7 linked regions of the Homo sapiens genome follow. The protein of the gene in region 2 purifies or fractionates together with the protein of the main gene of each other region. This does not show direct contact. Each region holds a gene or a part of one and is shown on either strand. Other genes may lie near its edges.

What was found.
Region 1: the proteins of ALDH7A1 (region 2) and ANXA11 fractionate together in Homo sapiens (co-fractionation; one large-scale study listed by BioGRID). This does not show direct contact.
Region 3: the proteins of ALDH7A1 (region 2) and CAPN2 fractionate together in Homo sapiens (co-fractionation; one large-scale study listed by BioGRID). This does not show direct contact.
Region 4: the proteins of ALDH7A1 (region 2) and CAT fractionate together in Homo sapiens (co-fractionation; one large-scale study listed by BioGRID). This does not show direct contact.
Region 5: the proteins of ALDH7A1 (region 2) and THEM4 fractionate together in Homo sapiens (co-fractionation; one large-scale study listed by BioGRID). This does not show direct contact.
Region 6: the proteins of ALDH7A1 (region 2) and NIPSNAP3B fractionate together in Homo sapiens (co-fractionation; one large-scale study listed by BioGRID). This does not show direct contact.
Region 7: the proteins of ALDH7A1 (region 2) and SUCLG2 purify together in Homo sapiens (affinity purification with mass spectrometry; 2 studies listed by BioGRID, with this or other methods). This does not show direct contact.

The regions. Positions count from the first base shown.
Region 1 is NC_000010.11:80,198,502-80,202,805, forward strand, and holds part of ANXA11 (annexin A11), read right to left. Parts: intron 2,893-4,304; exon of another isoform or gene 2,758-2,892; intron 1-2,757. UniProt on the Homo sapiens protein: Binds specifically to calcyclin in a calcium-dependent manner. Required for midbody formation and completion of the terminal phase of cytokinesis.
Region 2 is NC_000005.10:126,577,794-126,582,097, forward strand, and holds part of ALDH7A1 (alpha-aminoadipic semialdehyde dehydrogenase isoform 1 precursor), read right to left. Parts: intron 1-4,304.
Region 3 is NC_000001.11:223,715,240-223,719,543, forward strand, and holds part of CAPN2 (calpain-2 catalytic subunit), read left to right. Parts: intron 1-2,522; coding exon 2,523-2,592; intron 2,593-4,304. UniProt on the Homo sapiens protein: Calcium-regulated non-lysosomal thiol-protease which catalyzes limited proteolysis of substrates involved in cytoskeletal remodeling and signal transduction. Proteolytically cleaves MYOC at 'Arg-226'.
Region 4 is NC_000011.10:34,445,158-34,449,461, forward strand, and holds part of CAT (catalase), read left to right. Parts: intron 1-4,034; coding exon 4,035-4,206; intron 4,207-4,304. UniProt on the Homo sapiens protein: Catalyzes the degradation of hydrogen peroxide (H(2)O(2)) generated by peroxisomal oxidases to water and oxygen, thereby protecting cells from the toxic effects of hydrogen peroxide.
Region 5 is NC_000001.11:151,874,854-151,879,157, forward strand, and holds part of THEM4 (acyl-coenzyme A thioesterase THEM4), read right to left. Parts: intron 2,273-4,304; coding exon 2,148-2,272; intron 76-2,147; coding exon 35-75; 3' UTR 1-34. UniProt on the Homo sapiens protein: Has acyl-CoA thioesterase activity towards medium and long-chain (C14 to C18) fatty acyl-CoA substrates, and probably plays a role in mitochondrial fatty acid metabolism. Plays a role in the apoptotic process, possibly via its regulation of AKT1 activity.
Region 6 is NC_000009.12:104,770,151-104,774,454, reverse strand, and holds part of NIPSNAP3B (protein NipSnap homolog 3B), read right to left. Parts: intron 3,607-4,304; coding exon 3,457-3,606; intron 3,222-3,456; coding exon of another isoform or gene 3,184-3,221; exon of another isoform or gene 3,139-3,183; intron 1,634-3,138; coding exon 1,547-1,633; intron 1,459-1,546; coding exon 1,382-1,458; 3' UTR 1-1,381.
Region 7 is NC_000003.12:67,500,530-67,504,833, forward strand, and holds part of SUCLG2 (succinate--CoA ligase [GDP-forming] subunit beta, mitochondrial isoform 2 precursor), read right to left. Parts: intron 1-4,304. UniProt on the Homo sapiens protein: GTP-specific succinyl-CoA synthetase functions in the citric acid cycle (TCA), coupling the hydrolysis of succinyl-CoA to the synthesis of GTP and thus represents the only step of substrate-level phosphorylation in the TCA.

The sequences.
Region 1 (4,304 bases), on a different chromosome or scaffold from region 2:
GCCTGTAAGCAATTAACGTGCTCAGGTCCCATCACAGACCTCCTAAATTAGAATGATTCAGGGTGCAGTCCAAGAATCTATGCTTTAACAAGCCTTCCAGATTGTTCTTATACATGCTCAAGTTTGAAAACCACAGCCCTTGAGAATGCTAGGGACAACAGTCCATAAGGAGCCTGGTGCCAAGACAATCTCATGGAACACACACTTAACCTCGACCCTGATTTTTCAAGAAAGAGTGAGAGAGTGAGTGAGAGAGAGAGAGAGAGAGAGACGGGGCTCCTCTCTTCATTCACAACCAAACCTGAAACGTAATACAGGTGGCGTGGGGAAGATGACGATGAGAAACTTAACCCAACAGCAAAAATCAGGAAAGGAATGCATGCAAGTATAATAAGTAATAAGCAAGATGCAAAGAATAAAATCAAGTATATCTGGTATGTCAACAGTCAGAATTCCTCTACCAAAGACAGAAACCATGCAATTAGGTTTGTTGCTGTTATCATTGCCTTCTGTCAACCTCCATCCACCCTCAACCACGTTCTGATTATAAGAGAAACAAATTTTATTTACGAAGATTCCATCTTCAAGATAAACTTTTTTTTTTTTTTTTTTTGAGACCAAGTCTTGATCTGTCGTCCAGGCTGGAGTGCAGTGGCACGATCTCGGCTCCACTGCAAGCTCCGCCTCCCGGGTTCATGCCATTCTCCTGCCTCAGCCTCCCGAGTAGCTGGGACTATAGGCGCCCGCTACCACGCCTGGATAATTTTTTATATTTTTAGTAGAGGCGGGATTTCACCGTGTTAGCCAGGATGGTCTCTATCTCCTGACCTCGTGATCTGCCCGCCTCGGCCTCCTAAAGTGCTGGGATTACAGGCGTGAGCTACCGCGCCCAGCCAAGATAAACTTTTTTAAGTGAGAAAGAAATATTTAAAACTAAGGGTTGGGCAAAGACATACCAAATAAATGCAAAGAAAAACAGAGGTGGAAATATTAATAGTAAAAATAGGCTGGGCACAGTGGTTGGCTGGGTGCAGTGGCTCATGTCCGTAATCCCAGCACTTTGGGAAGCTGAGGTGGGCAGATTACTTGAGCCCAGGAGTTTGAGACCAGCCTGGGCAACATGGCAAAACCCCATCTCTACCAAAAATACAAAAATTAGTCTGGTCTCAAAATAAATAAAAATGAAAAAATATGTAAAATTTAAAAACATATATGTTGAAGACTTTTCGATAATCCTGCCTTAGCAAGCCAAGGGGTTTTTCCAGCCATTTCTCTCTGGCATTTGCCTTTATCTGTAAACACAGTACTTGGAGAACTACTCACTAGGATCTCAGGGTACAACAAGGCATAGCCTAGTCCAGCCCGCTGAGACAGTTTATGTGGCTTAAAACACAAGCACAGAGATGAGCTTATGACTTGGGGCCCGCGTCTTTCTGACTTCTGGCCCTGAGAAGTGTTTGTACTGGCTACTCTGTCAAAAACTCATCTTGCTGTCTGGAATGAGGAAGGAAATGCGTAAATGAGAGGCAGAGCAGTCCGCTTCTTGGACCTACAGGAAGGGGCAGGAATTGCAAAGTGAGAGAAGAGGTTCCCAGGCAACGTCCCAGGAGTTTGCACGCAAATCTCATTTTATCCACCCCTCCTAAAAATCTGGCTATCATGGGAACCATTAGGACAGCCAAGGACAGGGAGCTCATGGTCATCAGTGAGACCTGATTACTAACCGCTCCATGTGAGCCTGAACAGAAGCTAAAGGGGCATGGCTTGAATGTCCTCTGATGCCTGCATTTAAATTTCTGAGCCTTTCACTTATTATCTTATAAAATGCACTTATTTATTAATTTTAAGACTGTAAAGAAAAGAGATTCTCCCAGATCCTTGGCCATGTATTCTCCTAAAACACAGACAATATGGAATTTAAGACCAAAGACCAAAGGCATTAAATAACCAGCAAATGACAGGTAGGAAGATCAGCTTGATAAGCCTATATACATGAAACACGAAAGCCAAACTCAAAAGGCTAGAACTCCCACAAATATAAGTAGAGCTGGACTTTAAAAAACTACAGTGAGAGTTTTTGTTATACCTCTCAGAATCTGACAGCCAGGCAAGCAGGGATATAAGGGTAACTGAAGTTAAGAGATCTATCTAAAGTCAGCGTCCCGCAGAGGACCTATTTTCTCCTTTCACGCCCATGAAACATGTTAATATTTATCATGCAGTTGGCCACAAAGAAAATTTAATACCAGCCAGGTGCAGTGGTTCACTCCTGTAATCCCAGCACTTTGGGAGGCTGAGGCGGGGCGGGGGGATTGCTTGAGGCCAGGGCTTTGAGACCAACCTGGGCAACATGCTTCATTCACTCATTCATTCATTCATGAGAATGAATCCACTTTGTGAAAGAAGCAAACCCTTGCAGGTACCTAGGTCTGCCTGAGCACGGAGCGCCGTGGGGAGGGATGTCAGTGGCAGGCCATCCACATGTTCCCTTCTGGGATTGGAAAGGGAGCAGGAGGGTAAATCGAGGCAACAGAATCAAACACTCCCTCAACGACGTCCTCTTCGCCTTCAAAGCCAACATTTCAGAGCCTGTCTATCATCAGATCCTCACGTCCTGCTACTCCTCACCCATTCACTCCAACCTCGCTTCTGCTCACATCATCCCACCAAAGCAGTGAAGGCAGCCACATCTCCTCCATATCACTCACCACAGCCGCGATGCCAAGCTGACCACTCCATCCCACGAAGCAGACTCACCCTGGCCCCTGGGATACAACTCTGTCCTGGCTTTCTGGGCCCCTCTCAGGTCGCTCTTTTTCTGGGTCCTTTATAGGCTCATCTTCCTTTACTCAGCTGTTCGAGGTGAGTTCTTCAATCTCGCTGTGCCCATGACTTCAAATACAAACACAACCTAGACAAATGTCTGTCTAGCCAAGACGCCTCCTGAGCCCCAGACCCACCAGCTTATTTGGTATCTCAAAGACACCTCAAACACAACATGTCCAAAACCAAATACATGATCTTCTTCATCCTCCAAACCTGGTCCTCATCCAGTGTCCCATGTCTCAGGGACACCAGGTGGATGACTCTAGGGTGAGTGGGGGCGGTCTCTCCTTTTAAGCACACCACGCAGGGCGAGGCCAACAGTGGGTTCTCAGTAATAAGCAGTTCTACAGGAACATGCCTTGTCACCTACTTCCTAAAAATAGCCGTGACCTTTTTAGTGGACACAGCAAGCTCACATCTGTTATCACCACTCCTTCCCCACTGTCACACGCACCCTTTCCCCCAGTGGTGCCACTCCCCAGGCTGGATATGCCATATGCTCCCTAGCCTCCCTGTGAGCAGCCTCCACATTTCTCTTCTCTGCCCTCACTCAGATTTCCCCCATCTCATGTCCTCCAAGTCAGCCATCCCCAAGTGTGAGGGGCAGGGGACACCTGACTTCCTTCTCAATTTCCTTTCCTTCTTTTCTGCTAAGGCGGAGCCTAAGCCCCTGGAAAGCTAGAGATCCCAGAACCAGGCTTTGACCACCGCACACTCCACCCTCTGCTTCACAGCTCCTGGCAGTCACACACCCACGGTATCAACATTGTCATCACCACCCGCTAACTGATCTCAAACCCCTTTGCAAACATCTTCTCATCTGATTCTCCATTCCAGGCAGGCATTTTATCATCCAGAACTGTTCTGTGGGGGGGAAGCGGGGGGTCTCTGTGTGGCTGGGTGGCTTGTCCTAGGATACCTAGCACAGAGAACTCTGTCCCCCAATTTCTTAGTTGCCCCCACCCATTCCTTCCTCACATCAGCATGGGCAAGGCCAGCTGTGGTTTGGGTCACTGTTCAGGCTGTACTTTTAGGATCCTCCCAAATAGCAAACAACTATGTGACTATCAGGTCTTTATTTCATGGGTTATAGGAGATAGGGTCAGTAAGCCTAATGTGTAACAGTTTCAGTGGTTATTACAGAGTTCCATTGAATTGCAACAACTCCCTTTAAAAGCACAAACTCCCACCAAGAAAATCTCAGTTTCTTCATTAATCCTAAGAGCTTTCCTATCTAGGTATCACTCAAAATTCCTACTATTCTGGGGGCAATGGGATCAGAGGGTGTTGCAGAGAAAAATCCAGAGAAAGTGAAAAGTCTACTTCCTTGGCAGTGCTGGTGAAGCATACCCTTACACAGACGCTTCCCCATGGGAACAAGTGCCAGGAACTGCTTCAGGCTTACGGGGGAAAACAGTGGCTAAGAAGAGAGAGGAGGCCGGGCACGGTGACTCATGCCTGTAATCCCAGCACTTTGG
Region 2 (4,304 bases):
GACCTCAAGTGATCCATCCACCTTGGCCTCCCAAAGTGCTGGGATTACAGGAGTGAGCCACCACGCCTGGCCTCACATATTCTTTATGTTACCTGACGAATCCCTGGGCCAACTTCTCTGAATTCAAGACAAGGTGGCTCATTTATTGGTGGAAGATGGGAAGGGGGAGTTCTAATAATTATATATATGTTGAATAAATGAATTATGCAGGCCGGGCGTGGTGGCTCACTCCTGTAATCCCAGCACTTTGGGAGGCCAAGGCAGGTGGACTCCCGACTTGAGGTCGGGAGTTCAAGATCAGCCTGGCCAACATGGTGAAACCCTGTCTCTACTGAAAAAACAAAAATTAGCCGGGCGTGGTGGCGGGTGCCTGTAATCCCAGCTACTCAGGAGACTGAGGCAGGAGAATCACTTGACCCCGGGAGGCAGAGGTTGCAGTGAGCCGAGATCCTGCCATTACACTCCAGCCTGGGCAACAGAGGGAGACTCCGCCTCAAAAAATAAATAAATAAATAAAATGAATTACGCAAATCTTTACATTCACTATAAGAAACTAAAAATACAAATCAGCTAGGAGCAGTGGCTCATGCCTACAATGTCCAGCACTTTGGGATGCTGGGACGGGAGAATCACTTGAGCTCAGTTTGAGACTTGGATCAACATGGCAAGACCCCTGACTCTACAAAAAAAATTAAAAATTAGTTAGGTGTGATTGGTTATATGCCTGTAGTCCCAGCTACTTGGGAGGCTGAGGAGAACTGCTTGAGCCCAGGGTATTGAGGCTGAAGTGACCTGGGATTGCACCACTGCACTCCAGCCTGGACAACAGAGTAAGACCCTGTATCAAAAAAAAAAAAAAAAAGAAAGAAAAGAAAAGAAAAAACAAACAAAAATATTGTATTTTAAATACAAACTTACAAACTTTAAAGTCACCCATAATCCTACAAGGTGTTTATTTTAATTAAAGGCAGCTGGACAGTATAGAACCATACCACACGAATACGATGGTTCACAAATCCCAGTTAAAACCACAGACCAACTGGAAAGGTGGCTGTCCCAGCCATCAGTCTTTCTAGCCACACTCACACTGCTAGCTAGGATGAGGGACCATACCAGACACAGCACCTCACTCCTGGGCCCTCCTTAATCTGGGCACCTTAATCCCTAGAGATGAAGTGCTGGCACAGCCTCTTCCTGGCAGGGCCTGCCTCTTCCTGGCAGGGCCTGCCTCCTCCTCTCCAGCCCTCCCATCTCTGCCCTGATGTCACCCCCTTGCTTATAACCCTGTGGATTTTGGATACCTACTGTAGCTATTCTCAGAATAAAGTCCAATCTCCTTGTCAGACAAAATCTCTTCCCGAGGTTCTCTTTCCACTCTATCTGCCCTACCACTGCACCCTCCAGCTGTGCTGAAGCAATGCAATCCTCCCAAATAAGCCAGACCCTCTCAGCCTTCACACAGGCTTCTTCCTTCTTTAAAACAACTTCCAGCACTCCACTCCTTCTCCTCTTTGTCCCATTTGGGACCTTACCTTGGCTAACCTTCTCTTGGAGGCCTTCCTGGACTGCACTCATGAGGCTGGGTTAGGGGATCCCAGCTATGTGCCCACCATCCTACCGTTTACTCCCTCATATTACTTACCATGCTGGATTATGCTGGATATAATTACCTGTTTATTTATCTCCCACTCTAAGGTATAATTTATAAGCTTATAAATCCCTTGAGGACAGGGACTATGCCTTATAGCTCGAGTATCACCTAGTAGACTACCCGGCACCTGATAGATGCTCCATAAGCATTTATTGAATTAATAAAGCCAAAGTTACCCCAAAGTCTCTACATAAATGAGTAAACTGCTTTAAAAAAAAAAATAGAAGTGTAAGCTAGGTGTGGTGGCTCATGCCTACAATCCCAACACTTTGAGTGGCCAAGGCAGGAGGATTATTTGAGCCAAGGAGTTCTAGACCAGCCTAGGCCACATAGTGCAACCTCGTCTCTACAAGAAAAATTTTTAAATTAGCTGGGCTTGGTGGCATGTGCCTGTAATCCCAGCTACTCAGGAGGCTGAGGTGGAAAGATTGCTTGAGTCCAGGAGGTCCAAGCTGCAAGGGGCTATAATCACACCACTGCACTCCAGCCTGGGTGACAGATCCTATCTCAAATAAACAAACGAAAATGTGCAAGCAATTGAGAAAAATTTTAATTGTTAATTGTGAGGCAGGCATCATAGTAGGTATAAATCAAATAGTTACCTGCTTGCACATGTACATATCCCCAAATTGGAGGTTTATTGACTGTATTGTTGTTATTGCTGTTGTTGTTGAGACAGAGTTTTCTTCTGTTGCCCAGGTTGGAGAACAATGGCGTGATCTCGGCTCACTGCAACCTCCGCTTCCCAGGTTCAAGTGATTCTCCTGCCTCAGCCTCCCGAGTAGCTGGGATTACAGGAATGTGCCACCATGCCCAGCTAATCCGTATTTTTATTAGAGATGGGGTTTTTCCATGTTGGTCAGGCTGGTCTTAAACTCCCGACCTTAAGTGATCCGCCCACCTCTGCCTCCCAAAGTGCTGGGATTACAGGCGTGAGCCACCACGGTGGGCCTATTAACTTTTCTTAGCTAGAAAAAAACTCTTGAAAGTGTTCAATGACATAAAATTAATATTGGATAATGGGAATCATTGCTAGATATCTAATTAAGGACATTAAGTGTCCTTAATTAGACTTAAAAAGACTCCCCCAACTCTTTCTACAAGTAGGGAATTTACTCAATATTCCAAGAAAAAGAGAAAAATATGATTTTTTAAAAAATATTATTTCCTTATTATAAATGTAACCTAATAACCATCATGGAAATTTAGAAAATGCAGAAAAATAGAAGAAAATCCACTACTAGTAATTCTGCCACAGAGATAACCACTGCTACCACTTTAGCATACACTTCTATCCCACCATTGCCAATGCAGACATACAGTCACCTGTTTTGCTCTATCCACATTGCAAACATCACAAATTGCTTACACTCTTAACCTCATTTTTTTTTTTTTTTGAGATGGAGTTTCGCTCTTGTTGTCCAGGCTGCAGTGCAATGGCACGATCTCGGCTCACCGCCACCTCCGCCTCCCGGGTTCAAGCGATTCTCCTGCCTCAGCCTCCCGAGTAGCTGGGATTACAGGCATGCGCCACCATGCCTCACTAATTTTGTATTTTTAGTGGAAATGGGGTTTCTCCATGTTGGCCAGGATGGTCTCTAACTCCCGACCTCAGGTGATCTGCCCACCTTGGCCTCCTGAAGTGCTGGGATTACAGGTGTGAGCCATCTTGTCCAGCTTTTTTTTTTTTCTTACTCTTGCTGTCATCTTAGTATCTTCATTGTTAAAACCTCAGAGTATAAGATTGGTTCTTACAGAACAGCTTGTAATAGCAAAACACTGAAAACAGCCCTACATATACATCATTTGGAAGCTGACTAAATAAATTATAGTCTCTTTATAACAAAATAGATAGCTGCAAACACAGATGAAGGAAGCCCCTTAATAGAATAATACGAAAACAATTTCCAGCCTGACACAGTGGCTCACGCCTGCAATCCTAACACTTTGGGAGGTTGAGACAGGCAGATCACCTGAGCCCCGGAGTTCGAGACCAGCTGGGCAACACTGCAAAACCCCACCTCTACAAAAAAAAAAAAATAGCCAGGTATGGTGGCATGCACCTACAGTCCTAGCTGAGGTAGGAGGATCACCTGATCCCGGGGATGTTGAGGCTGCAGTGAACTGTGATCATGCCACTACATTCTGGCCTGGGCAAGACAGTAAAATCCTGTCTCAAAAAAAGAAAACAAAAAAACAATTTCCAAGATATATTATTGAATATAAAAGTATAAAACAGAACGTACAGTTTGCGGCCGGGCACAGTGGCTCACGCCTGTAATCCCAGCACTCTGGGAGGCCAAGGTGGGTGGATCATGAGGTGAGGAGTTCAAGAGCAGCCTGGCCAGGATGGTGAAACCCCATCTCTACCAAAAATACAAAAATTAGCCGGGTGTGATGGTGCACACCTGTAATCCCAGCTACTCAGGAGTCTGAGGCAGAAGAATCGCTTGAACCCGGGAGGTGGAGGTTGCAGTGAGCCAAGATCGCGCCACTGCACTCCAGCCTGGGCAACAGAGCGAGACTCCATCTCAAAAAAAAAAAAATGTATAGTTTGCTACATATTTGGCTGTACGTGCTCTAAAAAGATACACAAGGGCCTAGGAAGGTGGCTCATGCCTATAATCCCAGCTACTCGGGAGGCTGAAGGGGA
Region 3 (4,304 bases), on a different chromosome or scaffold from region 2:
AGCCAGATTGTTGTAGACTCCAGAGTAAAGGAACTGGAAATTAAGAACATGATCAACTTATTTAAGAAGGACCCCCGGGAAGAGAGGAGAACTGATAGGTAGAGTAGGACCTGGACTTTGAGAGCCTGTGTTTTTTTCATATGAGAACAACTTGAATGTGTCATATGTTGAATCACCAGGAAGAAGGGATTAAAGATAAAGGCAGGGAGGGGGCAGTGAAACAGGATCCCTGAGGAAGTGAGAATACGGGTTGTGGGCAGGGGAGGGGAGCAGGTTAGCCTTGCAGCAGGAGGAGCTGCTCTTCCTCGGAGAGAGGATTTCACAACACTGGCAAGAGTGGCTCCAGTGCCTGGAGCGGGGATTAAAGCAGTAAGTCCAGTGGGGTCCAAGGGCCATGCAGGGGTACAGTGAGGAGAAAGCAGGTGTGATCCGGGTGGCACATCAGATCCTTCCAGCAACCAGTCTGTTAGGAGCAAGGGCAGATGTTGTGAGCCCCTATGTTTCCCCCAAGAAAATCAAACCTCTGAGAGGTTTCTCACTTGCTTATCTTCAGCTGGCCGAACTCAGCCTCAAACCCATATGTCCTGTCTCCAAGTTCAGTGACTGTTATCATCAACTTCTTCAACAGTAATAATAATAGATCACATTTATGGAGTGCTTGCCAGGGCATGTTTACATCATTATCTCATTTAACACTCAGAACAATCCTCTGTGGTGGGTGTTTTCATCGTTCCCATTTTGCAGGTGAAAAAACTGAGACTTCAAAAGGTTAAGTGACTTCCCAGGGTCCTACGACCTACATAATAAGTGGCAGAGCCAGGATTCAAACCTAGGTTATCAGAATAATGCAGCAAAGCCCAAACCCTCAGCCCCTTTTCACTGACTGGTAAGACCCATATTTAATTCGATGCCCTACATGCCGTGCACAAGTTTCAGTTTTCTGAAGCATCGCTTAGATGCTTAGGTGTTTAGCACCACTCTGAACTCTGACTTTTCTAGAGAGGCTGCTAAAGGCATTAGAAAGTTTCTGAAGTATAATGGAAAAACCCTGCTGGAGTAAGTGCCTGGCACACTCAGGATTATCAGTGTGATTCTTTATAATAAACAGGCTCCCAGCACCAAGCCCAATCTATTCCATCAGCTGGATAAGAGCTCTCTGGCAGGCCTTGGGCCAAGCTGGCTTCCTTTGCCTCAGCAGAAGAGCATTCTGATTCTCTCTGCCATCCCCAAAACTGACAGGAGCAGAGAGAAACAAGGCAGAGGCATGAAGGGAATGTCCTCTGCGGCAGATGGTGCTTCCGGAAGAGCTCCCACAATCTGAGCTAGAATGAACAGGGGCTAGATCCAAGTCTCATATAGGCATACTTCTGCTTGACAGAGTGGGCATGCCGAGGGCCGTTGGGTGGAGGCAGGCGTGTGCAACCCAAGCAGACATGAGACGCAGCTCCTTCAAGGCAAGGTTGCCTGAGCCCAGAGAGGCTCAAATTTGTGCCCCAACTTCCTCTGTGGCTTTTGGGTGGGGCTCTTCAGAATCGAAACACACTCAGAGGGCTGCTGAAAGGGCTAAGAAGTGTTCAAGGTTGGCTTCCATCAGGCTGCTCATGACAATGGCCCCTGAGGTTTTAACACCCTTGAACGCTTGGTACTAAATCAATTAGAGGCAGGGCAGGAGCAGAAAGAGTTGGCGCATTTGATCAGTAAGTTCCAATGCCAGTGCTGTCTATTATCTGTGAACTGTGTTAACTTTGGACACGTCACTTCACCTTTTTGAGCTGTTTCCTCGTCTGTAAAAGGGGGATAATACCCATTCCATGAGGTAAAGCTTTGAGCACAGTCTCTGATGTAAGCAGGTACAGAATATATAGATGCTGTAAGTTTCATGGTCCCATGGAAGAATTCAAAAGGGTTAGATCCCGCCTGCCCTCAAAAGGGTATGTGTTAGGAAATCAGAGTAATACCTAAGTAGTAAATTGCAGAGTCCAGAGACTCTGGGACTCAGACTTGAAGGGATGAGTGAGGATTGGACTAGGACGACTTCACGGAGGAGGTGACAATGAGCCTCAAGGTATGATGCAATATGGAAAAGGAGGGAAGAGAGTGGGAAAGGAAGGAATTTCATGCAAGCAAAACAACTTGCATGCAGTAACAGAGGAGAGAGGATGCTAACCCAGTGGATAGGGTGGCTCTAGAGTGTGGATGGTCTCCACGTCTGGCAGAAAAGGCTGGACTTGCTGCTGTGGCCCCCGGGACACAGCACAATGAAGGAGGCTCCAGGCAGTCCAGAGTGTGCAGGGTCCAATGCCTGCCCTTCTCAGACAGGACCACCCATCCACCCATCAGGGCCCAGGGAGCAGGGGTCAGAAGGACCTCATGACACAGAGTTCTGACTGTGATGACACACTTTCCCCAGAGGGGAGGGGAAGGGGAGAAGGGGTTAGAAGACCCCACTGAGAATGGAGGCATCCTAGCTGCAGAAGCACCTGGCTGGTAGGCTAACAGCACTTTGTGGGTCTCGTTCCCAGGAGATCTGCGCTGACCCCCAGTTTATCATTGGAGGAGCCACCCGCACAGACATCTGCCAAGGAGCCCTGGGTAAGTGATAGATTCAGAGCAAGCTGGGGGATCTTGTCTGTAAGGCTGTGGGTGGAAGAGATGAGGGACAACCTGTGGCTTCTCTCCCTTCCCAAGCAGCTTGGCAATTTCTATTTGCAGAGAAGCTCCATGGAATTTCTTGGCCCTAGCGGGCAATGATTCTACCCTCAGCCCCATGCTGGGGCACACAAATGAGGCCTCCTGTGTCCCCTGCACAGGGCTAGTTGCTGAGGTTACAGAGATGCTGCCACTAGGAGGACCAGGGGGCTTCTGGATGTCAGCCACCCCTTGGTATGCACCTCCTGGAGCCAGCATTACCAGTGGTTCACGAAATACACTCTGGGCAGAGGACTAGGTGGGAGGACTCCCCCAGACCAATGACAGCACTGAGACATCAGTTCTGTGAGGTTCAGGAACCAGGGAAGGTGACTCAGTGTAAAGAAAGAGGAAACTCTAATGCTCGCTGCTGAAGGAAGTTATAGTACCAGGGCATTCTCAGTGTTTGCAAGACAAGCTCACCATGGTATCACAGTTGTAACGCTCATTTAAGTAAAATGAACTGGAGTAGCTGAATTGTCCAAAACCTTGCTTTCTGGAGCCGAGTTCAGATTTGTTTCTGGAGATAGTCCTTGTTGAAGGTTTCAACCCACAGGGTTCTCCACCTTTAGTATGAAAATTCCCAAAGCTTCTAGGAAGTCCCAGCAATGGGGCCTGGCGCTGTTATCTAAGATTCTCATAGAATCTGCCCTCAATGTTCTTTTACTCATAATAAATGTGGGCCTATAATTACTAGAGCAGATTATTTGCTCTGATAAACCAAAAATCTATTTTCTGCCATCAGCCTCAGCTGGCTGGCTCCCCAGACAAGTTCATCAGTAGCAAAATCAGTCAACTAGAGTTGTACCTCCTGTCCTCACCCACCTAGCAGAGGTTCTGTTACTCATATACTCCTAATACCAGCTGATAACAGCTAATATGTATCTCTAAGGCACCGTGATTATTCCCATTTTATAGATGAGGATGCAGAGGTCTTCCTACAGCTAAAGTGGTGGCTGGTACCCCTGACCCCAGGGTATGTTTAATTCCTGAGCTAGACTCCCTAAGACGGGACCTGGAAAATTTTCTAGCCCTGAGGAATGTCAGAGCATCATGTGAATCATTAGGACAGACAGACTGTGAGGAAGAACATGAGCTGGGCGGGAAAGTTTGTCTGAGCTCAGGCTCTGCAGATTCCTGAGATGCCAGAGCACATTCTTACCTGCAGAAAACACTCCTTTCATTTCTTTTCTTCTCGCCCCACAAAAGACAGAAGATAGAGGTCCTTGAGCACCCAAGGCGGATCCTCCAGGAAAATCTATTCATTAGAGAAAATGGAATTGATGGAAACTTTGACCAACCCCGGGGGCTTTAGAGAATCCAGAAACAGCCGGCGCAGTGGCTCACATCTGTAATCCCAGCACTTTGGGAGGCCGAGGCAGGCAGATCACCTGAGGTCAGGAGTTAGAGACCAGCCTGGCCAACATGGTCAAACCCTGTCTCTACTAAAAATACAAAAAAATTAGCTGGACGTGGTGGTGGGTGCCTGTAATCCCAGCTACTCAGAAGGCTGAGGCAGGAGAATTGCTTGAACCCAGGAGGCAGAGGTTGCAGTGAGTAGAGATGGCACCACTGCACTTCAGCCGGGGTGACAGAGAGAGACCCCATCTCAAAAA
Region 4 (4,304 bases), on a different chromosome or scaffold from region 2:
GTATATAGATGTAAAAGGAGTACACAGTCTAGAGAGGAAAAATAGTGACAGGCTGGGCGCGGTGGCTCACGCCTATAATCCCAGCACTTTGGGAGGCCAAGATGGGCGGATTTCTTGAGGTCAGGAGTTTGAGATCATCAGCCTGGCCAACATGATGGAACCCTGTCTTTACTAAAAATACAAAAATTAGCTGGGTGTGGTGGTGGTCGCCTGTAATCCCAACTACTTGGGAGGCTGAGACGGGAGAATTGCTTGAACCCGGGAGGAGGTGGAGGTTACAGTGAGCTGAGACCATGCCACTGCACTCCAGCCTGGGCAATAGAGCGAGACTCCATCTCAAAAAAAAAAAAAAAAAAAAAAAAAAAGAAAAACAGTGACATAAACAGGCAATTACAATATTTTGTTATATGGGGCACAAGAAGATGCCCTTGGCCCTGCTTCATGAGTGGTGTGGGGCAGGGTAGAGAGAGCAGTTCAGGAGAGGTACGTATGGATGTCATGGGAGCTAGCAGCCAGGAAGATGTAAACATGTTAACAAGGACCTCTCCAGAGAGAGGTCTTAAAATTATCCAGCCATAGAGAAGCTTTTCTCTCTTTAAAAATATTCTGGCTCTAAAGTTATTCATTGAGTTAAAAACAATAATTGCAAGTTGGAGGAAATCTCTTTGCCTGTCCTTACGTGTTACATGTAACAAGTAAACCTGTGCCACAACACTGACATCTCTGCAAAGTTACTTAAGTTTTCTGAGTTTGTAGTATCGCCCATTAAATGGGATTAATAATATTGATCTCTGGATTATTGACAGGCTTAAGTGAGATAACTTGCGTGGTCCGTTTTCTAGCCCCACCCTCTCATTTCATCTAGTAAATCTTCATTGCATTAATTATTTTCATCTTAAATACACCGCATCCTGCTCCTCACCTTCTAATATTAATACTCTATCTTTCAGTTTAGATCAGTTCCTCTTATCCAATGTTGCGCTAAACATCCCCTGAAGTTGGGGGATCTTTTCCTTTCTAGTTTTTGCTCCCTGGCTTCCCTTTTCTGTTGCTGACTGTTGAAGCTTTCCTGCCCCACTGGCTTTGAAGGTAAATTGTATATACATGAGCTTGTGGGGAAAGCTGTTATATAAATGAGGACAATTGATCTAACTGTTAGAGTGGGGAAATGGAAGAGATTCTGAAGCCTCCATTTGTAACTTAAAAACTCAGGTTTCATTTCTTAACAGGATTGATGTTAAGGAGGGGATTCCTTCATTGGGCAGGAGGGAGGACTGCCATAATTCCAGCATTCCCACTCTTAATAGTCAGTGTCATCAGGAAAGACCACCTCAAGCTTTAGTACTTTATTCATTTATCCAACTCTGCACCTGCTGCCTTTGGGTGTGGTATTTATTCTTGACCATATCACCCTGACCCGGTAACCAGAAGGGAACATGTGATGTGCTCTCATCTCTGCCTTAGGGGCAGCTCCCTCCCCACGTTAAGAATGCTGGCATGTAAATAACACTCTCATCTGTTTAGCGTTCCTTTTACTGAGCTTCTTGGTATCTTTTCTCATACTTGTACCTTTTATGGGATGTCCCCCCCTTTTTTTTTTTGAGACGGAGTTTCGCTGCTGTTGCCCAGGCTGGAGTGCAATGGCACGATCTCAGCTCACCGCAACCTCCGCCTGCTGGGTTCAAGCGATTCTCCTGCCTCAGCCTCCCGAGTAGCTGGGACTACAGTCACCCCTCCACTGCACCTGGTACTAATTTTGTATTTTTAGTAGAGACAGGGTTTCTCCATGTTGGTCAGGCTGGTCTCGAACTCCTGATCTCAGGTGATCCACCTGCTGCAGCCTCCCGAAGTGTTGGGATTACAGGTGTGAGCCACCGCGCCCAGCCTGGATGTCCCTTTATTTTTTAAAGGCTTCCTTAAATACCTTGTTTGTAAGTTGAAAAGAGCATTTAAAGAGTGAACAGATTTGGTTTGCTCTGGCTCTCTAATTATTTTAACTTTGTTATCACCCAATAGTTCTAGGTTAGTGGTTTTCAATCCTAGCTTGAACAGGAGTCATTTAAAAATAGCCCAGGCCTCACCCAGGGCACTTCTATCAGACATCTCTAGGGGGGATGGCCCAGGCATCAGGAGGCTTTAAAAAGCTCCTCAGGTGATTTTAGTGCATTGCCAAGGTTGAAAACCAAGGCTTTAGGTTTAAACTAAAGGTGAAATTGCTCTTTTTCTGGTTCATTTTCTACTTTAGAAAGTAGAAATTTTTTTTCTGGTTCATTTTCTACTTTAAATTAAAAATAAACCTACAGAGGGTAACACGTATTAGCACGTCACAGAGGGTCACACGTATTAGCAACATATGTATCTTCAAAAGAGTGATGTGACTGGGTGGTAAGTGTTGATTGGACCCTTAAACTGTGACAGTTTAGAAGGGGCTTTGCTAGATGGGTTTAGGGACAGAGATGGTAGAGTGAGAGAGTGTGGATGGAGGAGTATGCATCTGTCATGATTACTAGAAAAATAAAACTTCAAATGCTTTGCTCCTTCTGCTGCGAGGTCATGTTCTCACAGCCAGTGAAGTGACAGCATATATGTGTTGAATGTGTGGCTTGCATTTTACATTTAACTCTTTTAATTCATGTGTTAACCTTAGGAGGTACTTATTATTCTATTTTGCAGATGAAAATGGAGACTCATAAATAAGTAACTTACCAGCAGCTACATAGCTGGTAATTGGTAGAACTGGAAGTTGGACCCAGGCTCTAGTGCTGGCACTCATAGTTTCTCCCTGCTGCCATGTTGGCCTCTTCCTACTTGGATGAAGATATAACTCTAGTGGCAAGGGCATTTACTAGTGTGTGAGAGGGTCTTGTTTATTAGTTTTGCAAATTGCACGGTCTCCTTTATTCAATATCTTTTTTCAAACAGCTCACAGATCTTTTGTGGTTTTGTAAGTGCCTACTCCCCACCGTATTGCCTTCTAGAGAAGAGGCAGGAATTTATTTTAATGTACAGGACAGACATGCATGGGGAGTAAAACTACAGACTCCACTCTAGGTGTGTGGAAATACTAAAAATAGTGCTTTTCTCTGTGTGTGAAGTTGGTCTGTTGAGTTTTGTCATAGACAGCGTTGAGTTCCTCTCCCAGGTGGAGGTGGCGTAGCTTTGCGTCACTTACGTGTCTCTCCTGATTTCCAGTGACCCGGGGAAGACACTGCAGAGGCAGTTGTCTGTGGTCAAAAGTATTCTCTGACCATGGAACTAGATGAAGCTATGAGCTTCCAGGATCATGTGGGGCTAGAAGAATGCCGCTCTAACCCTAGAGGAGGGACAGCTGAGTGTCTTCTGATGTAACTGAAATTGGAGAATCAGGTGGATTAAAATTAATTATTTATTACAGTAAAATAACCTATCCCATTTCAGAGACATTTGCTATCTTTAAAACATTAATACTATAATCCACCTTACCAGTAACAGTTTACTTTTAGTGACAGTGAAAGCCATTGACTTTTTTTTTTTAATTGAAAAGAGATGTTGCAAATAGCTGGTGTACATTTCTTGAGATGCACTAAACAAGGTAGCGCACTTGAAGATCGTGGCAGTAATAAAGCGTTTGTAAGTTCTGAGTAAAGTATTGACCAGCACAGCTTCCCTGGAGACCGTCTTCTCATTGCTGGATTGGACATTTCACTGTTAAGCTTGTAGGACGCTTTTGGGCACCTCTCTGACTGGGAGCTTTGCAGAACCCAGTGGCTTTCTCTGGAGCAGGTGCTGAGCACATTTTCAGGCTCCAAAATCATCTTTCTGCTCTTCAGAGCAAGTTTCTTAGCAGATTAGTGTTGAGATTTGTCAAGGGTTTCTGGGGCATCACTAAAAGTTTCAGGCAATGGCCCATCCTGTCAGATTTTAGTACTTTGGACACAGGAAATTAAAAAAGAGGGCAGATGGTATAAACATTGCAAAGCTATGTACCCGTGACAGTGTAAATGAAAGGTTTGATTGTGCTAACTCTCCTGCACTTTCTTTCTGTGTTCCTGTAGAAAGCTGATGTCCTGACCACTGGAGCTGGTAACCCAGTAGGAGACAAACTTAATGTTATTACAGTAGGGCCCCGTGGGCCCCTTCTTGTTCAGGATGTGGTTTTCACTGATGAAATGGCTCATTTTGACCGAGAGAGAATTCCTGAGAGAGTTGTGCATGCTAAAGGAGCAGGTAAGTGCTGTGTTTATTTGCTGTAAAAAGATTGTTTCACAGCACCTGGGTCAAGTGTTATTTCCCAAAGGATTGGAAGACCTTTAACACAAGTGTCA
Region 5 (4,304 bases), on a different chromosome or scaffold from region 2:
GGGCGAGAATGAGATGGAGTTCACCAGCAGCTCTTTATGTCAGACTTTTAGCAGGATTCAGCTTTATAAATAAGCCTAAACAAACAAAATAACAGCAGATGATTATATGTCAACTGACTTCAATTTGATGGACTACTCTAAATAGAAAGACATATACAAAAGAAGGATTTGATTCACATTTGTAGCTTCAGTCTATCTGTCCACTCTCATTTTTCAGCCAAATTAAGAATCAGCTTTTGACTATCACAATACTGTATTACTTCTCCCTGGGTAACCAGGTCCTCACCACTTGGCCATTTCATGGTTCCTCACTACTTCCATTAGAAATGAAAAGAACTAAAATTACAAGTGAGCCATCTGGCACCTTTATGATATTGAAAGGTTTAGTGAGACAGGAAGTACAAACCACAGCCTGGAATGGAGTTCTTAAATTGACTGTGGATTTAAGTTATTATCTTCCACCTGCTCCTTAAATCCATCATTCCTGCAAATGCTTCATACTTAAGAGGAAAAATAAATTTCTTAAACAAGATACAAAAAAATTAGCCATAAAGGGAAAAATGTAATAAATGCAACTAAATTGACATTAAAAATTTCTGTTCATAAAGAAGATACCTTAAAGCAAATAAAAGACAACTTACACACTGTAAGGAGGTATGTGCAACTTATATATCCAACAAAAAATTGTTCTAATAGAAAATATATAAAGAACATCTATAAATCAGTAAGAAAATGAGAACAAATGGAAAAAAAGCTGAACAAACAAAAATTTCACAGAATGGGAAAAAATATGGTCAATAAACATATGAAGAGACACTCAACCACACAGGTAATCAGAGAAATGCAAATCAAGATCACACCGAGAAGTCATTTTATAGTCATTTGACTGGCAAAAATCATGAAGTCTGACTTCACTAATTGCTAGAGAAGATGGGAATCTAAAGAATCTCATATATTGCTGGTGGGAGTTTAATTTGGTACAGGCTTAGAAAACAATTTTGCATTCCTCTGTAAAGCTGAATACTCACAATACTCTACCACCCAGAAATTCTGTTCCTAAGTATATGCCAAGCTCTTGCCCATGCACACCACCAGGAGACATGAACAAGAATGTTTATAGCAGCCCCATTTGTAATAGTCAGAGGCCTGTCACTGGAAGAGAGACATTCATTGTGGGACAGTCACATATGGAGTATTACACAGTGGTACAAACAAGTGAACACAGCCAACAACATGGATGAACCTCAGTACTCCAGGGAAGTAACAGGTCATGTGTGTGACTTTCCTGAGACAGTCTACACACACATAAATATAGACATATTTTTCTTATTTATGGTATCACAATATTTCACCATTTTTTAATGGCACACACATACAATATAGTTCATAGGTGAGCTGTAGTTCTTTAACCAGTCTCCTATTGATGGATAGCTATGTTTGCTACGTTTTGCCATTTTTCTTGCTATTGCAAATAATGTTGCATGAGTGACACAATCACTGGAACCCGATAGCAATCTAACACATTATAATTTTGCAGTTATTATACCTGTGAGATAAAGTCCTGGAGGTGGGTCAAAGGGCATATCACTTTGTAAATTTTTTTTTTTTTTTTGAGACAGGGTCTGGCTCTGTCACCCAGGCTGGAGTGCAGAGGTGCGATCTCAGCTCACTGCAACCTCTGTCTCCTGGGTTCAAGGGAGCCTCCCATCTCAGCCTCCCAAGTAGCTGGGACTACAGGCGCACACTACCATGCCCCGCTAATTTTTTGTATTTTTTGTAGAGATGGGGTCTTGCCATGTTGCCAAGGCTGGTCTCGAACTCCTGGGCTCAAGTGATCCTCCCACCTTAGCCTACCAAAGTGCGGGGACTACAGGCATGAGCTTATGCATTGGGCTGTAATTTTGATAGCTGTTGGCAACTTGCCCTTTACTAGCAATGTATAAGAATATCTTTAACTTGTTCTTTGTATGACAGGGAATTAAGAATTTTTTGGCATGTATGGGTTATAATACCAGGGCAAAAAACCAAACCAAACCAAAACACCCCCCTGACCCCCACAAAACCCAAATCAACCAACCAACCAACCAACCAAAACTCCCAACCCAACCCAACTAAACCCCAAGAAAGAGATAAGACCAGCTTCTTACTTGTCGCCTCTGAGTATAGGGTCTTCTCATCAACACTCTGAACATTACAGGAAACAAAAAATTTCCTTCCTTCAACTTTATCAAGTTGGCTATTTATCATAACAACAGAACAAAGAGGGATAGGTCTGCAGAATAAAATGAAAAAGGAAAAAAATCAGTTTTTATCTGACTTATATAACATTAAAAGATGATCAAGTACATGACAAGGGATAGAAATTTATGACACCTGACAACAATGAGCACTGACTGCCTTAGACAATACATTCCTCAAGGACTCTGACACCAACAGCCTCTCAAGCTCCCCCTCTCCCAAGCACCACTGCTCTCAGGTGGCTCCTGGGCTACAGTCCCTGGATGTCTCTCTGGGCTTGTTTCAAAGGGATCATCAGGAATTCCAGCTCTGTGATGGCAGAGACTATCCCATCTGGAGATCCACTGCAAAGTCCTAAGGGAGCTGAAATGCTTTAAAGAAGTGAAAATAGGGCCAACAGATGGTCCCAGGCAGCTTCTCTCATTTCTTCTGTCATAATCAACATTTCTCATTCAATTCTGAGTAATGGTCACTAGAAAGACACCTAATAACAACAAATTGCTGATAACAGCTTACTGCTCTAAGTCAGTACTGTCCAATAGAACTTTCTGTGATGATACAAATGTTCCATATCTGAGCTGTCCAACCTGGTAGCCACATGTGCCTAATGAGCACTTGAAATGTGGCTAGCATAACTGAGAAGTTGAGTCCTTAAATTTATTTAATTTGAATTAATTTATACTTAACTTTAAATAGCTACATGTGACTAGTGGCTACAGACGTTTCTGGGAATCCTGGAGAAACATATCACAATGAAAGGATATCTCTTTAAAAGTGAAATTTCAGTTGGTTGAAACAGAAGGTAGAGCACGGAAACGTGTTTCGTGCTCCTATGGTACTACCAAGCAGATGATGGAACTACCCCAGGTAGAAAGGAAGTTATCACTGTGATGATCTCTCTGCCCAGTTTTCCTTTCAATGAACTTTTAATACTTCCACTCCCATTAGCTTTTCCTTTGCTCTTTTGTTGAGTCAATTCAACATTTACTAAGACCCAGGGGACATTAGGTGTTCTCGCCTGCCCAGCAACTCCCTTTTCTACTAACATGACTCTCTTCATTTATCCATCCCCTACCCTCCCTTCATTCTCTTCATATCTCTCTCTTTGATATACTCATGTACCCCTTTTGTCAGGGAACCACCTCTCCCTCATTCTTAGCCCATGTAGGTTGACTGGCATTGAATAATGATCCCTCCACTCCACACACACATAGTGACCAGTTGTGGGGGTGGGCACAGGCTGAAATAGTCAATCCTGGAACTTGTGCTGTAGCCCTTGGGGCTGGGTTCTTTTTCTCTGAGGCGCTAGGCTTACAAGACATAAGCCTGGCTGGCCTGGCTGGTGGCCATTGTGCCACTACACTGGGAAAGGCTACGTAAGGATGAAGCAGATCTAGAAGAAAATGTGGCTGAGATTCCTAATGACATCACTGAATATCTGCACTCAGCCACACCTGACTTCTCAACCATACAAGCCAATATATTCCCTTTTTTGCTTAAGCTAGTGAGAGTTAAGAGTTGCCCTTGTAACAGAAAGTCCTAGATTAGTAAAGAGACTAACAGAAAATGTTTCAGAAAATACAAAATAATGCAACAACTATACAGTGTAATTTTCTAAATGTAACTAATATTTAGGCACAGATCAGTTTGGTTGGCACAGGAAACTGGCTTTAGCTTGTTTTCCTTCGTTTAGCTAGAACACTTAATTAGATTTGTATTAGAGGCAGAAAAGTGATAACAAAGATAAAAGCAGCATTTAAAAATAAAAAAATTTGTTTTATTATATTTGTATATGTCTATACACACACACACACACACACACACACACACACACACACTGGAAAGGCATAACAAAGCCAAAAGATAACTCTTTGAAAAGACTAATAATTTCTGGCAAGACAGATCAAGACAATGAGAGAGAGCATACATAAATACTATTGGGGCCAAAAAGGATATAGATTTAGCTGAAATTTTTTAAAAATTGAGAATATTGTGAATATTATGAATAACTTTATGTCAATACATTTGAAAATGCAGATGAAATAGAAAAAAATTTCAAAAATTTA
Region 6 (4,304 bases), on a different chromosome or scaffold from region 2:
CCACATACTTGTGCCTCAACTATTTCACATAAATGTGAGATGTCTTAGGCCTCTTTGAACTCTGCATGGAAAAGAATGCTGAGGAGGTATGTCTGTTTAAGCTGCCACTGCCTGCCTCTCATAAATAATATCTCACATTGCATAATAGCCCAGATAAACTGCAGATCGCTTAGAGCCTGATAAATGAGAGGAAACTGTACAGTTTGTTTTCCAAATTGCCCTTGGACAGCTAATTCACAATTTACTATTTTATAGCTGTAAGATTTTAAAAATATAAAATAACATAGCTGTAAATACAGATTATCAGAAGATAGTCTGTAAAAATGTAAATATAATATAGCTGTAAATATACACTATCGGAAGTACCAAATCTAGTTTTAGTAGGTAGAGGCATCAAGTAAAATGGAAATGAAAGATGTTTCAAGGAAAACTCCAGGACATCTGTGGCAGTACTAAAGAAACCTTCCTTCTCAGGTTCCCAGCATGCTATTTTATTGATGTAACAACATTTTCAATAAAGTTGGTAAATTATCACTATATTACTGTCTTATAGCAACATAGCAAGAGCTTTAGAGATCATATAAGTATAAAATGTGAATTTAAAAAAACAATGAATATGCAGGATTTTTATTAGGGCAAGCGTTTCCATAACCATAAATATTTCTTTAAAACAAATAAATGTCCCAAGATCTCTGTTAGTGATCCAAACTAAGTAGAAATTAGTAAAATTAATTATAAATGAACAATTTCAGCATATAAACCAACAAGTCTTTTCTAGATTTTTAACACTGTGACCCAATTGCATTATTTTCCAAGTTAGAATGACTAATAATCAATGAATGTAAAAGCAATAATTAATACAGATGACATTGTACTTTTCCACAGTAAAGAAATAAACAATCTAATATTTTTATAAATCCCATTTTATATCACAAAATAACCTTTACTAAGCAAATTTTTTTAAAATCTCAGGAACTATAGACATGATGAAAAGATAGATATTTTATATAAATAATTCAAAAATACTGTCAGGCAAGGAAATGTAAAATCCTTATTTGAGTAAAAGAAAATGCTATAAAGCAATGAGTTATCAAAATACAGAAGAGGTATTCTAAAACAAATGAAAAACCAAGATGATGAAATAGTGACAACTACTTCTAATGTGTAACAGATACTGAAATGCCAAGGTGAAAGTGAACTGAATTATTTCTTAAAGCAGTGGAGAATATGTAACTTTCAAAAATGCAAGAAGCACAGCAAATTAACTAATTAACTTACCACCTCCTTCAAATAAAAGCGAGAACCTCTTGGGAGAATTTAAGCACCATTAGCAGACACATCTTAGAGCAGTTAATGAAATGTTTTGTATTTCAGTAGAAAACTATTTCAATGGTGAAAATGATGCAGGAATCAGAAGCATATTCTGCTGAGAAACTAGGTAGTTGACACTTTCCCGAACTGGAAAAACATTTCATAAGAAGGCATACAGTTATTGGTTGAATCACATTTGTTCTAAAAATAATTCGTGCTTAGTGAAACAGCTTACCAGCCGCCACAACTCTGGGATCCTCATGGGACTTATGTCTCCCAGCTGCACGACTATCTGCACTCTCATTCCACCAAAGAACATGAACTGCAGAAATAAACCACAAGTAGTTTCTGAAATATATGGCAATAGCAAATAAGAAATATTGAAAAAGTGAATCAGAAATGTTGTCTTATTCTTTAAATCAAAATCAAAAGGTAAAACTAAATATGTTAGTTATAAGATTTCAGAGGGATCAGAAATTTGGAAGATAAATTTATAAGTTAAACTGGAAACATAAGGCTGAAGAGAGAATGCAAAGAAACACAGCTTAAGGCACAATTAAGACTAGACCCGAGTTTAATGACTTCCTACTATGTTTTATTTTTTAAAAAAAGCAGATTATAAAAAATTGTTTACTGTAGAAAATTTAGGTGATACAAAGAAAAAATAAAAGTTAGTATAATCTTAACTGCCTAGATAAACCTTTATCAACATATGGTGTGTTTCCTTTAAAAAAAATTAGTAAACCAAATTAGGGTCTTAGTGTATATTATACTTAGTAACAGATTTTTTAAAATGCTGCAACAATGTGAGAATTTTCTATGTCAATGATATTAATTTTGAATGACAAAGACACCAAAAACAATCATGATAAAAACAAAAATTGACAAATGGTATCTAATTACACTTAAGAGCTTCTGCACAGCAAAAAAAAAAACAAAAAAAAAACTGTCAACAGAGTAAACAGACAACCTCCAGAATGGGAGAAAATTTTTGCAAACTACGCATCTGACAAAGGCCTAATATCCAGCCTCTATAAGGAACTTAAACAAGTTTATAAGAGAAAAAAAGAATCCCATTAAAAAGTAGGTAAAGGGCATGAATAGTCACTTTTCTAAAGAAGACATATATGAGACCAACAAACTTATGAGAAAATGCTCAATATCACTGATCATTAGAGAATGCAAATATAAACCACAATTAGATACCATCTCACACCAGTCAGAATGCCTGTTACTAAAAAGTCAAAAAATAACAGATGCTGGTGAGGTTGTGAAAAAAAGGGAACACTTACACCCTGTTGGTGGGAGTGTAAATTAGTTCAACCATTATGGAAAGCAGTATGGTGATTCCTCAAAGAGCTAAAAGCAGAACTGCCATTCGACCCAACAATCCCATTACTGGATATATACCCAGAGAAATATAAATCATTTTACCATAAAGACATGTGCACGTGAATGTTCACTGCAGCACTATTCACAATAGCAAAAACTTGGAATCTTTTCATGAAAACCTATATGCCCACCAACAACAGATTGGATAAAGAAAATGTGGTACATACACACCATGGAATACCATGCAGCCATAAAAAAGAACCAGATTATAACTTTTGTGGGAACATGGATGTAGCTAGAGGCTATTATCCTCAGCAAACCAACAGAGGAAAAGAAAACCAGATACCACATGTTCTCACTTATAAACGGGAGCTAAATGATGAGAATTTATGAACACAAAGAAGGAAACAACAGACACTGGGGTCTACTTGAGAATGGAAGATGGGAGGAGGGAGAGGATTAGAAAAGATAACAATTGGGTACTGGGCTTAATACCTGAGTGATTAAATAATCTGTACAACAAACCCCCATGACATGGGTTTACCTAAGTAACAAATCTTCACATGTACCCCGTGAACCTAAAATAAAAGTTAAAAAACAAACACCAGTTCAGCATTTGAAAAAGGCTCCATAAAGTATTAACATTCTAAAAAAATAAGATGTAAAATAAGATGCTTATAGATTTTTTCAATCCTATAAACAACAAACTCTAAAAATTTGGAGATAAAAATTAAAACAGGTACCAAAATGAAAAAGAGAGACGAACTGATCTAATACACATGGCAACTTCATAGAACAAATGGACAACTGTACCTCTGTTGAGTTCTCCATATTCTGTGTGGAAAACACCAACTACTTTTGTGTAGCCTAAATTGACATGGGCATTAATTGCTCTTTCAAATGCATCACCCCACAGAGCTGGCCCACCAGGTTTCATCTGAAAAACAGCTAGTTCATAGACTCCTAGAATAGGGAGAAAAATAATTATTTCACAGAAGACATTCAAACAATTTCTAACCAGGTTTTCCTGATTTCATTAGAAGGCTAACCAATGAAGTTAGAGGATAATCCATGTATACATACATATGCAGTCACATTTATTGATTCTCTGCATTATTTTTCTTTGCTTTTATGTTTAGAAAGTCTTTGTCCATGTTTAAGGGTCAGTTGTTAAAATTAATCATAAAGAAAATAAAGAAAAAGGACTGGAAGCTATATATAAACTACACTCTGAAATATTTTTAATCTATAAAATTTGTCAGGAAAACAGATACTGAGAATGTATAATGAAGCAGAATTTTCAAGCTGCCTGTCTACACTTTTTAAAAAAGAAATGCATAAGAGAAGTACTTTCTGATATCCTACATTTCCTTCTCCTTTTCAATTTTGAGAGGAAATAACTTTTTCCTTTGTATAATTTTCTCCGGTAGGATTCTATTTCTAGTTGACCCAAAGTCATGTCTGAGCCTTTAAGGAAAAAAAGAAAACCCTCAAGGAGATGGTTTTATTCTTCCTAAATATCCAGGTAAATGCTTAAAAACCATTCTACCTTCTGGCCAGAAGTATAAGATGGGTGGAGAGAAAGAAACTAGAGGACAAGGTAGATTGGACAAGAAAAAGGAAAGAAATACAAAGTTACTAAAGAATTATGAACAACATAG
Region 7 (4,304 bases), on a different chromosome or scaffold from region 2:
ATATTGAAAGCTTATTGACAGAATCCTACAATTACCAAACGAATTGGCCAATGTTCTCTGCTTGCTACAGGGGAATTTTCTCAGCAGTTAATGACTGGTATAATAATCAATAAAAAAGCAACTTCGTACATGGCTTTCCACTAGGTTTATAAATGCATTCTAATTAATTTATTAGTAATTTTAGCTCCTCCATTACTCATTGGCAAGACTACTTATAACTGACACCTTCAAAATGAATGGGCTAAGGTTATCAAATTGACTTCCTAAGGGAAGAGTTTCAAATAAAGGAATTCTTGGTTGAGATCAATAAACAAGTAAATCAAAATAGTTTCAAGCTGACCTTTGCTCCTTACAAAGACTACAGTTACAAGCTGCTTCAGAGAGAGAATAATTAATGGGTATGTATTCAAAGTTCAAAAGGCAATCCCAACTAAATGCCTGCAAAGCTAGATTTTCAGAGGATGTTTTTCTGTGGTATGACGTTCTCTCCAGGGAACAATCTTGACAGAACTTTGCAGTTAACCCAGAGCTTCAAGATGGTGACTATGGGATAAAAGGGGTGTATATCTACAACGGTCCTGTGCCGACTGTTAATTTGTAGAGAAAACTAAACAACCTAATTGGATCATTGCATGTATGTCTAAGTGTTTTGGGAAGTTAAAAACACTACCTAAATATGAAGTAATTTATTTAGAGGACTTAGGACTTAAGAAAGGGGATTCAAATTGAACTGCCACCTTCAAGACCCCAGTCTTTACTTAGTGGGTAAGGGAAGAAAAACTTTAAGGATGTAAAGGGATTCTTTCAGACACATATTTGTTACGCCTGTTTTATATTTTAAAAGTAGTCTGTGATACTGTGATTTATAATAAATATATTATTTTGGTCTTCATCCCTAATTCCTAGCATAGAGCTCTAAAACCCTTGTGATTTCCTAAGCAATAGGGGTGCTAGGAGAATCTTGTGTTCTAACATTTGGCCTTTGACCCTGATTCCTGATGCAGAGCTCCTAATCCCTTGGGATTTTCTGGGAGATAGGAGAGTCTTTTGTTCTATTAAGGTAAGTCTTGGTGGAGGCTTCTGTATGGGGCTGGTCGCCAGAAAGACCAAACTATGATTAGAAGCTTGGAAATTTCAGCCCCACCTCCATGCTCCAGAAAGAATAACAGATCATCCCTATGTAATAAAGCCTCCATAAAAATTTCTCAACTCCAGGGGACTGGAGAGCTTACAGGTTGCCAAACACAGGGAGGTGCTACAGGGTGGCTCACCTGTGGAGTACAGGGAAGCTTGTCACCCCTTCATGCATACCCTGCCCCATATACCTCTTCATCTGGCTATTCCTTTGTATCATTTAAAATATCCTTTATAAAAAAATAAGATAAAAAATAAAATAACCTTTATAATAAATCAGCAGTAGTAAGTAAAGTGCTTCCCTGGGTTCTGAGAGCCATTCTAGTAAATGATGGGGCACAAGGAGGGAGTCCTAAGAACCCCCAATTTACAGCTGGTTCATCAGAAGTACCAGAGGCTTGGTCTTACAAATGACATCCAAAGTGGAGTCAGTCTGATAAGACTGACCCCTTAACCTATGGGATCTGACTCTAATTCCAGGTAGATGGTAAAAGAATTGAATTGAATCATAGGATACCTAGCTAGTGTCAGAGATTAGTCAGTGTTGGAAAAACTCACACATCTGGTCCAAGAAGTGTTCTTCTGTGTTGAGAGTTTGGTAGGAGAAAAATGTTTGTTTTTCCCTATTATACATAGTACCAAACAAACAAAGTGCTTTCCTATCTTACTATCTACAATGTTGTGCCATCTAAATGATTTTCCTTGAACCTGACCACTTAATATAGACTGGCATCAAAAATATCAGGGTATAAATGACAACTCCTGGCACTTCCTAGCCAGCTATCCTTAAGCACATTAACCTCTCTTAAACCCGAGCCTTGTCTATACAATGGGGATCAGAGTATGTTCTACTCTAGGTGTTGGTGGCAGGAGAGATTGTATGCAAAGCGCTTAGCTTCCTAGACAGTGGGTACTAGCAGGTTGTTAGACGACCACACCACCCTCTAATATGCACATGCTTTTTTATACTTAAGAGCTTCCCATTATTGTAGCCCAGGCTACAGAACTCTCCTCTCTTCCTAACAATAAAAATTATCTGTTCCTTTATAATCTGAGATTTCTGTTTAGAGCAAATCTAAGCAAATGTCTCCCATAGTTTACATATGTACAGGTTACCCATGGTTTTCAATAAAAAGCCATCTTCTGAATGAATAAGAATTTTCCCAAAGGAAGAATATTAATAGTTGGCATTTTAGGCATCATAAATAGTAGAAAACAAGATTTTTGGCTAAAAGATAAGGGTAAAATAGGCTGTTGGTGACTCTCAAATCACATCACACCTGTGCATAAGGCCAAGGCTAAAGATTGGTACAGAATAGCTCCAAATGAAGATCTAAGCAAAGGGTAGCAACTAAGACCCTCAAGCCAGCCCTATTTTTATGAATAACAGATTGGAACATAGCCTCGTTCATATTGCCTATGGCTGCCTTCCCAAGACAAAAGCAGAGGTGAGTAGTTGCAATACAGACTGTATGGCCCGCAAACCCCCAAATATTTACTAACTGGTCCTTGACAGAAAAAGTTTGCCAATCCCTGCTAAGTCACAGTTCTCACACTTGTATCCACTTGTGTGAACCAAGTGATAGATACACAGGTGTCATATTTTATAGTGAAGGAGAAACTTAGAAAAAGTGCATTCCATTAACATGAAAACCAAAAAAAAAGTAAAATAACAAAGAAAATAAATAAAAACCTGTGGCTACGCAAAAGGAGTAGATTAATCCTGGAATACTAACTGACTCTTACATGCTTATTTCCTCCTGTAAGACGCTTCTAAATGCACTTCTTGAATTGACGTGTTAAAAATGGATTGATGTCTATGTCAACAGCAGGGCGATAAAATAAACTTGCCTGCTTAAACCCTTAGCTTTCTCATTTAATAAAACAACAAACAATACAAAATGCATTTTCAGAGGTGCTGAGCTTGGTCCGGACCTTAAGATTGTCAACGTCACATTAATGAAACTCAATTCTAAAGAAAATTCATCTTGAACAAAGGCCATTTTTTATACAAAGTGGGTGAAAGAAACATACCTATTAATATTTATAAAACAATTTTCACCATCAAAAGCACATTGTTACATGCTTGATAGATTATACAAATGTATTTTCCTTCTGAACGAATATCAAAGAAAGCTGTGGTACTTATATGCATAGGGTGTTTTGTTGTTTTGTTTAGTGGCGTGAGATTCTGTGAGCTGCTAATTCAACAATCTCGATAGAAAACATGACTGGCAGTTAGAGGCCTCTGACCCTAGAATTTTAACAGAAGAATGTGTCACAGAATTAAACAAAAGAAGAATACATTTCAGAGGGGAAACTTACACATAAAAGGAACATAAAACAGCAGGAAATAAGACTATCATAATTAGTTTGAAAAATAATCTGTCTTCAAGCAACGTACTGCGTTTGATTTGTGATAAATAACCATAATGTACTATTGAAACACGCCTTGCCAAAATGGCCTTAAAATGCTGATACTTTCAAATTAGTCCCACTTCCCATTAAATATTGATGTTCTGAGAGTTGTATACTTTTTAGAACTTTTTTTTAGTGGCTGTGAAAAGAGAAAATAGGTATGGGGTGGGTAGGGGGGTTGGGGGAGGTAGAGAACCGAAAATGTTCTTGAAAATAGAGTCTTGTGTATAAAGACAGAAACAGAGAAACACCCACCAACAACATGGGCACTTGCTAACAAGAAGCAACGGGGTGGTTATTTAGGGAAATCAATCCGAAGAAAGAAAGGAATTTGATGTGCCAGTTAACTGTGGATCACCCAGCTTTAATTCTCACGGAATCTTAGCCAGATAGTCACTGCTTCAAATTGGATCTCATTCCTTTGGCCCAGTGAATGGATTTCAGCTTCCAACTGATGAAGATGCCCCAAAGCAAGAATTCTTAATCTCTAGACTATGGACAGATTGGGTGAGGTCGTTCTCTGTGAACAGGGACCATCCTGTGCGTTGTAGTTTAGCATTATCCACGCCAGTAGCATAGCCTCCAAGTTGTGATGACTAAAAATGTTCCCTGGGGGACAAAATGCCCACCCTTCCCATGGAGTACAACTTGCTTTAAAGACATCAGAAAAAGGAGTCTGTGTACAGATAGAGCTGGCTGAAGGTGAGAAGAAATATGACATGAAATTTCACAGTGGCTAGCAAAATGAATGA